Regions from separate parts of the Homo sapiens genome. Here region 1 is linked to region 2. Evidence: fine-mapped expression QTL. A gene starts in region 2. The other region holds a variant in brackets. All regions are shown on one strand. Distances are between the middles of the regions.

Region 1 (8,346 bases), 90 kb after region 2:
TCAACAAAGCAAAACAAAATGTAGTGGAGGCAACAACAACACTGTCTCCCTGCTGACTACCCCCAAATTATTACAGGAACCACTTCCCCCATGTGACTTACTGAGCCTTTTTGCTCAACTTCGGCTATTGCCATTGGGATCCTGCTGCATCTTAAAAGGGAAGTGACTACTCTTTATGATGGACAAGATTCTCCTTCTCTAGCCTGATTAGATTCCCCATCCAGCATGTATTCTTATATACATAAGAAGCCAGATTTTTCCTCATAAATACTTAAATAAATATATAAAACTATAGTGAAGATTCCACTTTGTGCTGAGACTCAAGTGGCTTTTGCTGATTTCTGCATCAAAGCCCCAAGAGAACGCAAGCTGACCTAGAACCAAAGTCTTTCAAAAGTTGAGGACACAAGAATGCAGCATTCCTAAGGAAGATATTTCTAAAGACTGGGGAAATTCCAGTATTTAAACATTGTAGCACAGTTAATTATCCGTGTTGGAATGTGGAAGAAACCCACGAAATAGCCCTCCTGTTTTCTGACTGATTCTTACTCCAATCCATTCTCAGTATCACTGTGACAGTCATTTTTCTAAAATCCTTATCAGGTACAGCCAGTCCTTTGTTTTCAGTCTTCACTGAAGCCCATCCCCATACCTTGTTGAAGAATCTGGACCCTTCCTGCTTCTCCAGACTCAGGTCCTGTCACTCTCACCTCACCTGCCACAACCCAGCGATGTCCAGCTTCCTAGAGGTGCCCCAAAACACTGTGCTATTTCATGCCTCCATCCCATTGTTCACGGTTTGTCCTTCACAAGAAAGTCCCACTTCTGTGTCCATTTCACAAATGTCACTTCCTAGTCTTTGTTCAAAACCCAAATGTTCATCTCTGTATTATTTTTAATATGTAAAAACTGGGAATCTTATGGATTTCCACTACCATAGAATGAATAAATTGTTGTATATTCACACAATAGGATATTATATAACAATGAAATAGAGCAGAATGCAACTACACACAACAACATAGGTAACACTCACAAATAATTGAGCACAACAAGCCAGACACAAAAGAATACATGCTACTTAATTCACTTCATATCAAGTTCAACAATCATACAAAATTCATCTGTGGTATTAGAAGACAGGATAGTGGTGTCCCTTGAGGAGAATAATGGCTGGAGGAGGCAATATGGGGAACTCTGGGATGCTGGTAGTGTTTTCTTTTTTGATCTGGGTGCTAATTATATATGTGTGCTCACTTTCTGAAAATTTATTGAGATGTATTATGATTTTTTAACCTTTATGAATTATGTTTTAACAAAAAGTTGAAAGAAAACCCAAAGCCAACTCAAGCACTATTTTTGCAAGATAAAGGGAATTATTTACTTCTAGCTATCTCTGTATTGTGTGCATTTTTTCTTTGTAGTTGCTTTGGTCACACTGAATTGAAATGTACAGGGCTACATTTTTGTTGGATATTTTGCCTTTTTGTTGGATATTTTCTGTTTGCCCCTTTAGATTCCCTTTGCTTCCTTCTCTGGCACACTCTGTATTCCAGGAAAACTCTGTATTCCAGGAAACTTTCCTGGATTGAGTGTGTCAATAAGCTTACTTTTACTCCAGTTGGGTTCAACCAAGAGGAAGCACCAGCAAGAGCAGAGTGAAAGGAGAGTGAGGAGGGAGTGTTTACTTACCCCCTCCTTCTCTGCCAGCTGCTCCTAGTTGGCTCCCTCCCTCTATTAAAGGCCATGGCTCTTTTAGCTGGCCCTGTCAAAGGCTGCGGCTACCCTCTCTGAGCTCTCTCCCTTTGCTTCTTCAGGCCTAAGGATAGAAACACCCCCTTGCTGGTGTATTTTACCATTCCTTGTTTGTTTTCTTTAACCTTACTCACAGCTTTGTAAATAATTCCTTTATTAAACACTCCTTAGATATGCTGTTTGCCTGTGTATGTGTTTTCTTCTTGGACTTGCTGATATAGTACACTTTCCCAACTCTCTATCAGCAATCCAAAATCTGTGATACCCAGTTTTATTCATACTTTTATCATCCTAAACCACTAAGTAGTCCCTCTCAATAGTAGGCACCAAGAAATATTGCTTGAATCTTTTATATCCTTGTGAACAGCCTAAAATAATATAATTGTAGACAAAATACAAACAGCACAAAATGGCTAAATTTTGAACTTTGGTGATGGATACATAAGAGTTCATTTTACTATTCTCTCTACTTTTGGGAATATCCGAAATTTTCCATAATTAACAAACTTTTTAAAAGGGTCTTTAACCATTAATTGCTCCTTGCTTTGTCTTTCTTGAAGCTTTGATCTGGATTTTTTTTTTCTTTCCTCCTCATTCTACATTTTCTGCCTAGTGATTTCAATCATATCCACAGTTTCTACTGTCAGTTCTTACCTGGATTATTGCAAGTTTCCCAGCTTGTCTTCCTGTCTTGGATCTATATAATTATCTTTTCCAAAGCCAGAATAGTGTTTTCTAAGATGTATATCATACAATAAATTCATTCTTTTTTTTTTTTTTCAGAAATATTAACCAACCATTATACGCAAGCAAGCTACTGTCCCAAGCACTGAAAACAGATGGGTTCTCTGTCCTCAAGCAACTTAAAGTTAAACGGAAAAAGACAGAACATAAATAAATGTAGGTATAAATATATTTTCTTAAAAAGCATGTTTCTACTATCTATAGCTATGTAATAAGCTGTCTCAAGCCTAGAGCCTTAAAGCAACATTTACTTTACTCAAAAATCTGCAGTATGGATCTGGCTCACCAATGATAACTCATCTCTGGTCCTTTCATTGCCACCTGTGGCAGTTCCCAGACTGGGGGCTAGAATTATCTGAGATATCACAGACTTACATGTCTGACAGCTGATATTGGCTCAGTTGGGACTGTGTTCAGAACACCTAAATGTGGTCTTTCCATGTGGCTGTTTGGCTTCCTTAAAGAACAGTGGCAGGAAGAGGGGTTAGAGAACCAGGTGAAAGCAGGATGTCTTTTATGACCTGAACTGGAAGTCAGCAGCCTCATCCATGAAGCTTCCATTTATTAGAAACGAGTCACAAAGCCTGGCCCATACTCAAGGGGATTAATCTATGTTTCCCCAGGGCCTACCCCCCTTCCCAGTACCCAGTGCATAGTAGATTCTTAATAAGTGAATTATAGATAACTGAATTATAGCCCTTGTCCCATTGCATAAGTGTTTATATTTCTTTCACCTAAGAGCCCATTTGATTCAAGGATCAAAGTGATTAATCA[CTCAG/G]GACTACACAAGTCGTAACACATGAAAGATGCTTAGTTATCTTTGAAGAATGCACAAAACCACACTTCACAACAGCACTTGGGTCATACATGACAGCTGTTACCCTCCAGCAGTAATAGGAAGGCACATAATTATCCACCAAATTATCTCAAACTCCTAACAGAAATTCTTGTGATTATTTTTCCCTATTGAATTTTAAGTACTTAGCAGAACACCACACTGAAGTCCAACATACATTTATTGAGCAACTCCAATGTGTAATGCCAATGAGGAAGATTTGAGTATGCTTTGATAGTTAACACCAAAGGGGGAAATTAGTGTGACTAATTAAAAACTTGACAATGCATAGTTCCATGGAAATACACTGGAATTCTCTAGTGAATTTTACAAATGGATACTGTTTTATGAAGTTACTTCATTTTTTTCATACTGTATGTATGCAATAGATTATTCCAAGAATGTATATATATTTTTATTTTCTAGCTTCAAAATAAGTGTTGAACTTCAGTCTGTGTATTTGATATCTTCTGTGATCAAGAATCTTACCAAAAAACTAATCAGCACCATAGTAGGAAAACGTGATCGTTAAAGCAACTGAAGATAAAACAGTTCTTGAGGAAAAAGTCTGACTTCATTTTTCTGTCATATCCTACTAGACTGAGAATCATAGAATTTGATTTAAAAGGTATAGTAGTTTTCTATGGCTTCTGTGACAGTTTTCCACAAACTTAGTGGCTTAAAACATCACAAGTGTATTATCTTACAGTTCTGTAGTCTGGCATGAATTTCACTGGGCTAAAATCAAGGCATTGGCAGGGCACCTGCATTCCTTTTGTAGGCTCTAGGACAAGATTCATTTTCTTGCTCCTTTGGGCTGTTGGCAGAATTCAATTCCTTGTGATTTTAGGACTGAGGTCTCCTTTTTTATTGCAGTTATCCATTGAGGGCCTTTCCTGGCTTCTAGAGGCCCCTACATTTCTTGGCTTATGGTTCCCTTCTTCCATCTTCAAAGTCAGAAACTGTGATTTGAAGTCCTTTTGTATTTGAATCTTTCCTCCTTTCATCTCACTTCTCTGGTACATTCTTCTTCCCTAGTAGGAATCACATGAATAGTCCAAGATAATCTCCCAATCTCAACGTTCTTCACTTTTACATTTGCAAGTCCCTTTGACTATGTGAAGTAACACATTCACGTCACAGTGTCTGGGGATTAGGATGTAGACATCTTTGGGGTTGGAAGTGGGGCATTATTCTATCATACCTTCCACAGAAAACCATATTTCCACTTGTTTTCTCTTTGTCTTCTCTCACCTGGCATCTTTTAATATACAAAAACCCTAAAGTTACTAGACATTTAGAGAAGTTCTTCTATCCACCCTTTTTAAAAGGAGTAGCAAGTAACTATGAAATCCTTAGTAATAGCAGAGATATGAAATCCTTAGTGATATCAGAGATAGTGACACTATGACCTGGATGAATAAGAACAAATATTTTAAAATAGTATGACTTTGAAATATAGGACATTCTGTTTCTCGGGGGCTACTTCTTTTTATTCACACTAACTTAATTTTTAAAAAGTTATTCAAAATAGCTTACTTGGAAATAAAGGGGACTTTCAATGCAGTGGTTTTAGAATCCAAGGCAGGAAGCACATTTGAACTACACAAAGAACCATCTGCAAAAGAAGGAAAGCCATCAGAAACTTTCCCCTGTCTCTTCACCACCTTCTCCTATACTGACTTCCCTATCTCCAAATGGTGTGTACTGACTTCTTTCTGTGCTTCTCCTTTTCTCTCATTACCCTTCCCTGCTTCTGTCTGATCTTGGTGCTTTTCTCTGCTTGCTCATGGTTACCCCAGTTCCCAACAGGGCTTCTTAGTTCAAGTTCCAGGAGTTGACTCCCTGGAGTCAATGAGTCATTTAAATTCTTGAAAAGACTCTTTGGCATTTCTTGAGTCAGATGTCATCACTATTTTAATGAACTGCGACTAGAGGACAGGACCCTATACAGTGCAAATGCCAAGGGCCATTGTCAGATTGGCAGCCAAACTTGTCTTCTCCCAGTGTCCAACCTTATTATTTTAATATGTATTTTGATTAGTTACCCTTCAATACTTTCTCTTCTCCAATATGGATAATTTGGTATAAAATGCTATATATTTTATTTAGTCACCATTTTCTTTATGTAGTATATATTAAAACGTTATGCCGGCCGGGCGCGGTGGCGCACATCTGTAATCCCAGCATTTTGGGAGGCTGAGCCAGGTGGATCACCTGAGGTCAGGAGTTCACCACCAGCCTGACTAACATGGTGAAACCCCATCTCTACTAAATACAAAAAAATTAGCCAGGCATGGTGGTGCATGCCTGTGATCCGAGCTACTTGGGAGACAGACAGGAGAATCGCTTGAACCTGGGAGGCAGAGGTTGCAGTGAGCTGAGATCATGCCATTACACTCCAGCCTGGGCAACAAGAGCAAAACTCCATCTCAAACAACAACAACAACAACAAACGTTATGCCTTGATGAGGTTCCTATGGCTTAAAAATACAACAACTTTAGAGATTAAAACACTCAACATTTTGAGACTAGTGAATCTCAGCTCTGTCATCAGGAGGAGAGAGAAAAATTTTATTGTCAATGTATGATCATATAGTAATATAGAGTTCATATTTTTAATCTGAAATTTCCATCCCCCAAATCCATTATAAGGTGATACATGCATAGCAGCTACTGGAATAGATAGTTTTGGTAGTTATTTCATTTAATTTGGCTCTTACCAGGTTTCCTGACATGAATTCTTTCTTTGGATGTCATCTTTGCCTTGATCCCAGGAATCTTCTGCTATTCCAAAATGCTATTCTTCTCAAACCAAAACTCTCTTCAAATTCTTTTAATACCTTTTCTGACTCATTTTCCTTTTCCTTTAACTGCAGATATTTGAGTCCCTTTGCCCTTCCTCCCCATTGTTCTCTATTCTAGACAAAAATATTTTTTTTTAACTTAGAGATTAGTAGATTCTTTTGGGAGTCATTAAAAATTATTTTTCTACAAGCTTGACATGATCTCTTATTCCCAAATCCAGAAAATCTCAAATTGTGTTATTACTATATATGTGTTTATATATATGTGTGTATATATATAAACACATATATATTTAATTATATATATAAACACACATATATTTAATTAACAATGTGCTTACTTGTCTGCTACTAAACAAACCAGTTTCCTTAGAGACAGGAGATAGGCTTTCTTCTGCCTCTCAGCCATAACACAGTTTCTGACACATAGAAGAAATAATTGAATGAATACATTTTATGAACATTAACGTACATTCAGTAGAGATCAATTTTTTTTTAGATTTGTAAAACATTAGTAAAGTAAACTAATAAAAAAGTGGTGAAATCTTTAATAGGGGTGTATTCAGGTACATTCAAGGCCTGGTAGTTACCAGAATGATTTGCTTGCATTATTTCTTAATGTCTGGATTTTCATTCTGACAGTTCCTCCCCAAATATTATCCATCCATTCAATGCTCAGCTCAGATGTTACCTTGATTCTTCTCTGATTATCTGAACTTCAGGTGATCTCTCCTTCTTTGAACTCCTATTGTTCTTTGTACAACTTTGGTGATAATTACCAACATGTCAATGAATTTAGCATACTTCTCTGGATTGCTGCCATCAGTGAATTCATTTTATTATAAACTTAAGATTACAAACTCCTTGTGTAGCATGCAGATCTATTTAATTTACTTTTGTTTACTGGGTCTCCCCAAACACAGTACTTTAATCTAGGTTAGTGATGACCAGATGTTTTCTGAAAAAATAACATCTAATTGTATTTGTTTACCCAACTAAACCTTAGGCAACTGCATCTATATTACTAGTTCTAGATAAAAAGCCATGTTGGATTTTAAAAGTACTGAATTTTACTACTGTACTTTGATTTTCTAAAGATGGTAGTGTATATTACACACGATTCTCATCTCTTGAAGTTTACTATATTTTCTCTGGTATGAATTTTGTCAGAGTCAACTGGAAATCCAGTGGCCGAAGTTTTACATTCCAACTTGGAAATTTAGACAATGTCTCTTTAATTTTTGGCAGTATAAATAAAAACTGAATTTCTTACATTGGCTATATGTTTTCCAACATGCATTACTGATTGAACTTTCTGATATTTATACAAATGTTGTGATGTACTACAGACTTGATGTACAGACTTACATTATGGTTTCTTTTCTTTGAAGCTTTTACCTAGCCATTCCAAGCTAAAATGATAGCTTGGAGGTGAAAGGCATAGTACACAAAGAGCACAATTCTGTTTGCTGATGACTTGATCTTACAGATAAAATCCTAAAAACTCCACAACAAAATGTGTTAGAACTCATAAACAAATTCAGTAAAGTTATAGAATACAAAATTGACTTACAAAAATAGCGTTTCTAAATATTAACAATCAACTACCTGAAAGAGAAATTAAGACAATCCCATTTATAATGGCAGCAAAAAACAACAACAACAACAACGACAACCAAAACACCAAAAACAACTCAGTAGTAAATTTAACCAAGGAAGTGAAAGAGCTATATACTGAAAACAATAAAACATTCATGAAAGAAATTGAAGATGACTCAAATAAGTGGAAATATATCCTTGTTCATGGACTGGAAAAATTAATATTGTTAAAATATCCATACTACCCACAGAAATCTTTAGATTCAATGCAACCTCTATTAAAATTCCAATGCTGGATGGGCGTGGTAGCTCATTCTTGTAATCCCAGCACTTTGGGAGGCCAAAGTAGGAGGATTGCTTGATACCAGAAGATCAAGACCAACCTGGGCAACACAGTGAGACCCTGTCTCTACAACAATAACAACAACACAATCCCAATGGCATTTTCAAAGACATAGAAAAAACAATCCTAAAATTTGTATGGAACCACAAAACATCCTGAATAGCCATAGTAATCTTTACCAAAAAGAATGAAGCTGTAGGCATCACACTGCTGGACTTTAAAATGTACTGCAAAGCTATAGTCCTCAAAACAATATGACACTG
Region 2 (8,346 bases):
GGGATTATGTGATTGATGGCAGGCTTTGCTAACTACATGTTCTATTTGCTGGGGGAAGGGGAGCAGCATCCACAGTCTTTTGGTAAGTTGGTGCCACATAACTTTGAGATTGTGATGAGTGTGCACAAACTTGACTGTTGTACTCTCAGAAAAGTGATTTGACCCCTGTGATAAGCAGAAAATAAAAGATTCCTGTCCTCCAACTCCGCCAGAAAAACCATACTAAGATAAAAACCATATGCAGGAAGCCATGATCAACTGGAGAAGAGATGGCGTGGCCAAAGTTCTAATGCTACCTGTCAGAAAACACCCCCTTTTGCGGAAAACCATCAATTGGACAAGAAATGGTGTGGCCAAAGTTCTAATCAGAAAACACCCCGTTTTAGGGAAAACCATCTTTACAGGTGGGTAGATCCAAACTACATCAAGCAGTACTCCAGAAAAAAAAAAAAGATTTGTTTTTTAGCCTCAATTTAGAGCTAATGTCCTTTAAAATGAATCTTGAGTCCACAAATATCTTTTGAACACTCATTACATACAAGATGCAATGCTTGGCACTGTGAGAAGAAGTCCTAGAAGATACACCCTGTGCTCTAAAAAGACCTATTCATCTAGCAAGCTATTACATTTTTGTGCAAATAAAAACTGTTTAAAGGTGCGCATGTGCCAAATTCAAGAAATGATACCACCTTAGTCAGCACTTGATAGTGTTCAATTTTATTTTGGTCCATTAAGTGATGCTGTTTTTGGTTACCTGACATATTGTTCAGCATTCCACATGATATAGAGTGGAGAACTAACAGGACTGTAATTCATCAATTTCCCTGGGATGGTTGCATTTGTATGTTAGACAAAAACTTCTGTCCTGGTCAGCTGCAAGTGCAGAGATGGCAGAGAAGCTAGTTGCTATCCTTCAAAGTGCCACAAAGTCACGGGGGAGAGTATGGACAAAGCAGGCTGAAGCCAGCGCTCTCAAGTTTTGCTGCCCACGGCCTTCTGTAATTGGCACATGGACATTATTCTAACAGCGATAGACGGTGGATACACCAAAGCAGAAAATGAATGGGTTGGTTGGGGCTGGGGACTCAAAGGAGACAGTCTTGACAGCAAATCTAGCAGCTAAATCCAAATTAAGCAAACCTGCTAATGCCACTCACTTAAAAAAAAAATCTTTCTTGCTCTCGCAACCAGAGCACCCAAGCATGATAACTGAGACCACAAGAAAAGGACAATGTGTGCTGAAAGGAAATTTGAGGGCTAACTTCTGTTGAGGGTAAATTTGAGTGATATTTTACTTATGAGCAGAAATCCAATTTTAATGTTGAGAAAGTGAGCTCTAATGGTCCGTTTGGAGCAGTGAGAAGGACGCTCTTCTCTGAAACACTGCATCAAGGACAAGACCACGTCTAGCCGGAATGAGAAGAAAAGTTTCTGGTTTACCCTAAAAGTGAAGTGAAAACAACACTGGGGAAGGGAGGAGATGTTGTGGGGGGTGGGGGCGCATGGGCGGTAGAGGTGGAGAGCCTTGGAAGGACAGGTTGTTTAACTGGAAGCAACTAGGGGCCTACATTATACCTATTTTCTGCTATCATCTAGAAATCAAAGCAGCAGCATTAGAAAAATTCACCCTTGTTCCCTTTTTGTATTGGCTGTCAAGAAACTCAACACTGCTTCTGAACCTTTATCTCATCAACAGCAAATATGTCAGCAGAATATAATAATGTTTTCATAGTACCCTGGGTTAAATAAAAAGGCTGCTGTAGGGCTAGAGGCTACTGCTGAGGGCTCCTGGGAATGAGCATCTAAGGAATGTCAGTATTCCATCAGTGGCAGTTAGTGGACACACACCAGTTAGGAGATTCTGAATTACAAATTGGCCTATTATATGTATCTATATCTTATATATTACATATTATGAATTGGCATATTATATATATCATATGTATGCATATATACCATATATGATCTTAGTTTTAGGCCCATATATTGGTCCATATTTTTGTAGTACTTGTTCTTTCCTCATAATAGATGGCGTTATATCTTTTATTTCTCTTTACATAATCTTACTTGATTTTAATTTCAAATTTCTCAGTTATTCTTTAGGTAACGTGTGGAGTACAAATTTAAAATACCATGCATATTACTTGGTGTGTTTGCTGTGTGCTAGGACCTATGATTTTACTGCTGTAAACCCACAGCAATAATAATAATCCTACTTCTTGGCAGGGTGAGGAAGCCAGCTTTTTTGAGGATTGGATAAAATCAATTCAGATAAAACATTTAGCCAATGCGTGGCACCTAGTAGGTGGGCTTTACACGGTAGACTTATTATTTTTCCATTTAATACTCCAATTTCCCTTTGTGGGGAATCGGGGGGATAAGAAAATGCAAGCTTCAAGGAGTAAAGGGCTGGACACAACCACATAGATACAAGACACTAAGCAAGAATTAGGAGTGCTCCCTGGCTTCAAAGCTGGTGTCTAAAACGTCTATCCCCTAAGGGGCCCTTGTATCGTGTCATGTGTCAGACCCCGGGTTGAACGCGAGGATTTTTGTGCTGTTCCCAGGGTCTCTCAAGAGCTCTCCTAGTACCGACCTCCTTGTGCTCGGTGGCCCCTGGCCCGAGGACCCCAGATGGGTGGCGGAGAAACGCAGGGGATAGAGACTAGCCCCCTAGCCGGGCTCCGTGGGCCCGGAGTGGATTCAAGGACCGGTGGCAGAGGGCGACTGCAAGTTGGCCCCGCAAAGCCAACAAGGGGAAGGGTAGGGTAGTGACGACATCACCTGGTCCTTCAATAGCCTCCCGGGAGGCTTCAGGAACTCACATCTCTTTCCCTTGACGAACAACGCAGGTGGTTTGCTGAATTAAGTGTTCCCGCCCCAAATTGAGATACAACGGGCTTTTTAGCCAGATTGGCGCAGACTGGGAGTTAAATCCAGCATTTTCCCGGCAAAGCTGAGCCTGGCCGCCGCGGAGCCCTCTTTCCGCTGTGCGGTGCCTCCGGCTCCGATCGCGGGCCCGGCGCCCCGGGACGCGCCGCCGAGGGTAGCTACGCGGCCGGGCTGCGGCCTCTCCCGGAGAGCCTGCGTGCGTGGTCTCTCTAGCTTGCTGCCCGCCGGCCAGGAAAACTCTGGGGACAAGCTGGAGCTGGCGGAGGTTCCCATCCGGCCACCCTTCCCGTCTGATTTCCTGAGCTGACGGTCACCGCCGGCGTTCGGGGACCAGCGGTTCCCTGTGCAAAGGGCTCGTTTCTCGATCGCCGCTGGATAGACCGCAACCGGGTTCTCAGAAAACACCCGAGCTACAGACCGCATGTAGCTTTAAACAGTTTTTAAAATGCGATTATGCTTGCGTCTTTATGAAAGCACATGGATGCAGTTATACGTATGCATTAAAAAACACAAACAATTCTGCATTGATTGCAAAGGAGCGCTTTCTGGTGGCAATGTAAACGGTCTAGTTTGAGACCCGTGATGACACACGTGAACTGAGTTGCCAAACTCATAGAAACTCCACACGGTAGATCTGTACATTGTGTCCCGTGTTAATTGTACGTCAACTGAAAAATCAGAACTTACATGAAAAGTACGAAGTGCCACTGCATACACGCATATCTAAAAGCCGGTAAGATGCGGCTATAGATGAGCACATTTACAGCAATGAAGGGCCACTCTGCCGGGTTGCTAGCTTATTCAAGCTTCGCATCGCCGGGAAAGGGATGGAAAGGCAGCTGACATCACTCGGGGCGGGGCCGTGAGTCCTGTGAAAAGTCGATGGGACTCGAGCAGCAGCCTCAGCTGCCTTGCACAGCCTCGCAATGAGCTGCCACAACTGCTCCGACCCCCAGGTCCTTTGCAGCTCCGGGCAGCTGTTCCTGCAGCCCCTCTGGGACCACCTGAGGAGCTGGGAGGCCCTCCTACAGTCGCCCTTCTTCCCGGTCATCTTCTCCATCACCACATACGTGGGCTTTTGCCTGCCCTTCGTGGTCCTGGATATCCTGTGCTCCTGGGTGCCCGCCCTGCGGCGCTACAAGATCCACCCTGACTTCTCGCCATCCGCGCAGCAGCTGCTACCTTGCCTGGGGCAGACCCTCTACCAGCATGTGATGTTTGTGTTCCCCGTGACGCTGCTGCATTGGGCCCGCAGCCCGGCCCTCCTGCCCCACGAAGCTCCCGAGCTGCTCCTGCTGCTGCACCACATCCTGTTCTGCCTGCTACTCTTCGACATGGAGTTCTTCGTGTGGCACCTGCTGCACCACAAGGTGCCCTGGCTGTACCGCACCTTCCACAAGGTGCACCACCAGAACTCGTCCTCGTTCGCGCTGGCAACGCAGTATATGAGCGTCTGGGAACTGTTTTCTTTGGGCTTCTTCGACATGATGAACGTCACACTGCTCGGGTGCCACCCGCTCACCACCCTGACCTTCCACGTGGTCAACATCTGGCTTTCCGTGGAGGACCACTCCGGCTACAACTTCCCTTGGTCCACTCACAGACTGGTGCCCTTCGGGTGGTACGGGGGTGTGGTGCACCACGACCTGCATCACTCTCACTTTAACTGCAACTTCGCTCCGTACTTTACACACTGGGACAAAATACTGGGAACGCTGCGGACTGCATCTGTCCCAGCGCGGTGATGTGGCTGCGGTGGGTGCCCCTAAGACTCGGGACTGCTGTGCCTTTCACACTTGAATGAAGAGAAACACCTGAGCTATATATTTTTTTAAAGCAACTAACTTATTGCTTTATGTTTATCTATGAAAACCATAGATAAAATCTGATGCATTTTTGTAATCTGACAAAGTAATTTACATACTGTTTGTGTATCAATACAATTTTGTGTTCTTGGTATTCTTAGTCTAGCTCACCTCAATAGCCTTGAATCCTGCATATGAATTAGACATTCATCACTGGCATATTTAGAATATCTCTAAAAGGACTTGTTTGTAGAATAAGGAATTTTCTATGTTTCAAAGTGTTCTAAAACCTGGCTAAAAGAATGTATTTTTGTGGATGGTGTTGACTTCTGACTCTAAAAGCAATCAAACATGTTTCTGCTGGACAGTGACCAAGAATTATAGTACCTTCTTATATTTTTTTATAGAACTGTATATTTATTTTGAAAGAAATGTTATTCGTGCTTTAAAAAGGAAAAAAAACCATGAATCAAATAAGTATTGACTTCCGTTTCACTGGTATTTTGACTGATAAAAAAGGGAAGAGGGAGCGGGCATACCAAGTGTCCTTCTAAGCCTCCATCAGCCTCACCATGGAAAGAGAGGAATCTGGGTGTAGGGTGTTCTGTTGGGGGTTGTTAGAGAAAAGGAGGCAGGAGAAGGGGCTCTGTTTGTTGTGCTCTAGCAATTTCATGGAGGAAAAACACGCTAATATTCTTAATGCTTTTCAGCTGATTTCTGTATAACAGGCAAATGATAGGATTACTCTGTAAAGTTTCATAGAAAGATTAACGCTGAGCAGTCAATCATTTTATTATTTGTGGGAATGGATTAGGGGAAGAACAGAATTGGAGGCGTGCCTTGCTTTGCAAAACTGGTGAGTCAATAGTATACACTAGAGTGGCTGATAGATGTGCAAGGGGATTCTGAGGAAGCCCCTGTTTTCATGAATCCATCCATAGCTACTGCAAATGAACATCAAAGCATTGCTTCTGAAATCTGGAATTTCTGTATATTCAGTTTTCTTAATTAAAACATACATGCAGCAGGTACAGCCCTTTCTAAAAGAAAGATAAAGTGAAATTTGGCCCTGGATCCCTGATTCCTCATGTGGAAAAGGAGGAGGTGTCCCAGATGTTCTTGCAGATGACAGTAAATATTCCTATTATTAACCACACACCCATCACCCATCACTCACCCCATCTAACTCCTGCCTATTCATTTTAGTTTTGTTTTTGGAATATATATAGTGTAGAGTTAAAAATCAAGACAATTTAGACACAATATAAAGAATGGCAGCTTTGTGTGTAATTCTTGGCTCATTATATTTGAACCAAACTGTCATGTTTAAAGGTAAAGCATCCATTTAGAGACCTGGTCTCCACGGTCTGCCAAATGAGACTCCCAAGAAATATGGTTAGGCCCTCCAAATGTTTGGCAGAATGCCCCAGAATGTGGAAGCTCACAGCCAGTTTTCCCATGTTCCCTTCAACGTGTGTGTTCCTTTAGCTTCTTGACTGAAGTTACCTCCTCCTCTGTCTGTATCAGGACCAGGCTGGGATTTAAAGATGATATTGATTTATAAAAGTGAAATCCATGAAAAGAGGAAGTGAGATGTGAGGAGAAAATGCTACATTGACGGTAGTATATTATTATCATGATGCACGTGGCACCTGGAGTAAGAAGAGACGGATAAACAGGCAGGTGTGGAATCTATGGTGCAACTATGAGTTGTAAGCAGCTGTAGGCACTCCAAAGCTGCCCTGTAAATCATGGATAATAACAATTTATCACAGCGTATCCTCAGAGAATTGTAAAAATGTATCATGTTGCATCACTGCATAAGGTAATTTTAGATTTTGGGCAAATTATACACATGGAAAGTGCACAATTTGGATTTAGAAATACTTTCTTACAATCGAATGTCTTAACAGTTTTTAATGCCTTGGGAGGTAGAACCGCGGAAGTGGAAAGGATGAGCAATTTTTCAGATAGCTTGAGAACCTGTTAATAAAAATAGTAAAGAAAAAGTTCATATGCGCATGCGCTGTCACACAATTTCTCACTTGCTCCTTACAACAACACCATAGGGATGTAGAATAGTTACTATTATCATCATCACCTCTGTTATGGATAGAGGATTGGTACCCACACAGGTTAAGTACTTTTTTCCAGATTACAAAATAGGAGGAGTGGGAGCCAGTTCTACTAAACTTAGGTCTGGTGGTGTATACTGTGCTTCTCTTCTGATAACTGCCAGAGAGCTGCAAACCCTGCAACACCAACAAATGGCCTCCCTCTGTTGTTCCTCCTTTGTTACTACCCCTAAAACAGTGTTACCCTGGCCCACTACTTCACTTCCACATGGCTGCCAAAGCCTCTGCCTGGGTAGGGGAGAAAGCCAGGGGAGGTAGAGCAAGGCCAGTCTAAGCAAGCCCTGGGAGAGCAGGAGGCAGGTCAAGGACTGTTTTCTGCATCCTTCATTGCACCTGTGCTACAAACGCAACTATTGCAGCCAGATTACCTGGGTGGGAATCTGGGTTCTGGGACTTACTAGCTGAGTGGCTTTGGATAAGGTACTTAACCTCTCTGCCTTAGCTTCCTTATCTGTTGATCATAGACTGTTCCTTGCTGAGTTGTTGTGAGGGATTTTTGAGTTACTAGACGCAAAGTGCTAGATGAATCCGAAATCCTGGCTGTAGTCGTGTTTGCTGTGACTGATGCTTCCCAGTGTGAGTGCTAGGACTGCAGTTCAGAATGGTCAAAGCTTTTTGTTCACAAACATGCTTGTGCTCGCTCATATTCCGGGGAATCAAATAAAGCCAAGTTGTTGGTTCTGCTTCCATCACAAGCTACTTCTCCCACCATCCTTTCAAGGCAAAAGTTTTATAAAGAGAAAGAAGTCTATGTTTGTTTGATTCTACTTCTTTACCTCTGAGTCATTCTACTCCCATTCCTCTGGAAACTTTTGCTCTGGGTTGCCTACTAATTTCCTAATTCTCAAATCCAGTGACTTTTCCCTGCTTGGTGTTCCATTTCCTTGGCTTTCTTTTCTTCTTCTTCTTTTTTTTTTTTAGAGGAATTTTATTTACAAACCAGCTCATCTTGGAATGTGGTTCTTGCTTTGCTTTAGTGAGGTTTCTCTCAACTCCTTTCCATCCTCATTCTCCAGCTGTTCCTTCTCTCTTCAATGGCTCTTCTTTCACCACAATAGGGAGGCAAGCCTCAAGGTGCTCCTCATTTTACTAAAAAATACCTGTATTGTTTATAATTAATATCCTCCCTACCATCTCCTAATGTAGTCTATAAATGTCCTACTGCATTGCATTCTAGTAAATAAGCACAATGTGTATACGCATGTATATTCACATACACCATGTATATGTGCATATGCATGTAACATGTAGACACGCTATATATGTACACACTATACACACAAACTCTATGACTACATGCTATTATATGTACACATAGATGTATTTAAACACTATATACATATGCTGTATATATGCACACATATATAAGCACACTGTATAGTATATATGTGTACACATTATATGTACACACACTATATATGTAAACATGTACAAACCTGCTATATTTGTACTAGATGTGTATACACACACTATGCCTCCTCTTCTCTCTCTCTTCACATACATAAACATAAACA

Which allele goes with the higher level. Positions count from the first base shown, and alleles are read on the strand shown. Sizes are in standard deviations (SD) of each study's normalised expression.
In carriers of allele CTCAG in region 1, the expression in fibroblasts of the gene that starts at base 3,794 in region 2 tends to be lower than with G alone (small effect, 0.24 SD a copy in GTEx).

The links. PIP is the estimated chance that this variant, and not a neighbour inherited with it, causes the effect.
Region 1: its variant is the best candidate, but not a certain one, in a credible set for the expression of CH25H in fibroblasts (GTEx, PIP 0.89).

The regions. Positions count from the first base shown.
Region 1 is chr10:89,113,226-89,121,571 of GRCh38, reverse strand. No RefSeq gene overlaps it. Among named protein-coding and RNA genes, the nearest start is that of MIR4679-2, 54 kb to the right of the region's middle. The variant CTCAG/G (reference allele first, on the strand shown) is at 3,274.
Region 2 is chr10:89,202,765-89,211,110 of GRCh38, reverse strand. It overlaps CH25H (cholesterol 25-hydroxylase), which reads left to right and starts at 3,794. Exons shown (of 1, transcript NM_003956.4): 1 at 3,794-5,482. The coding sequence starts at 3,819. The coding sequence ends at 4,637. It overlaps LOC105378418 (a long non-coding RNA gene), which reads right to left. Exons shown (of 4, transcript XR_946180.4): 4 at 6,612-6,680. RefSeq lists an enhancer at 3,953-4,022.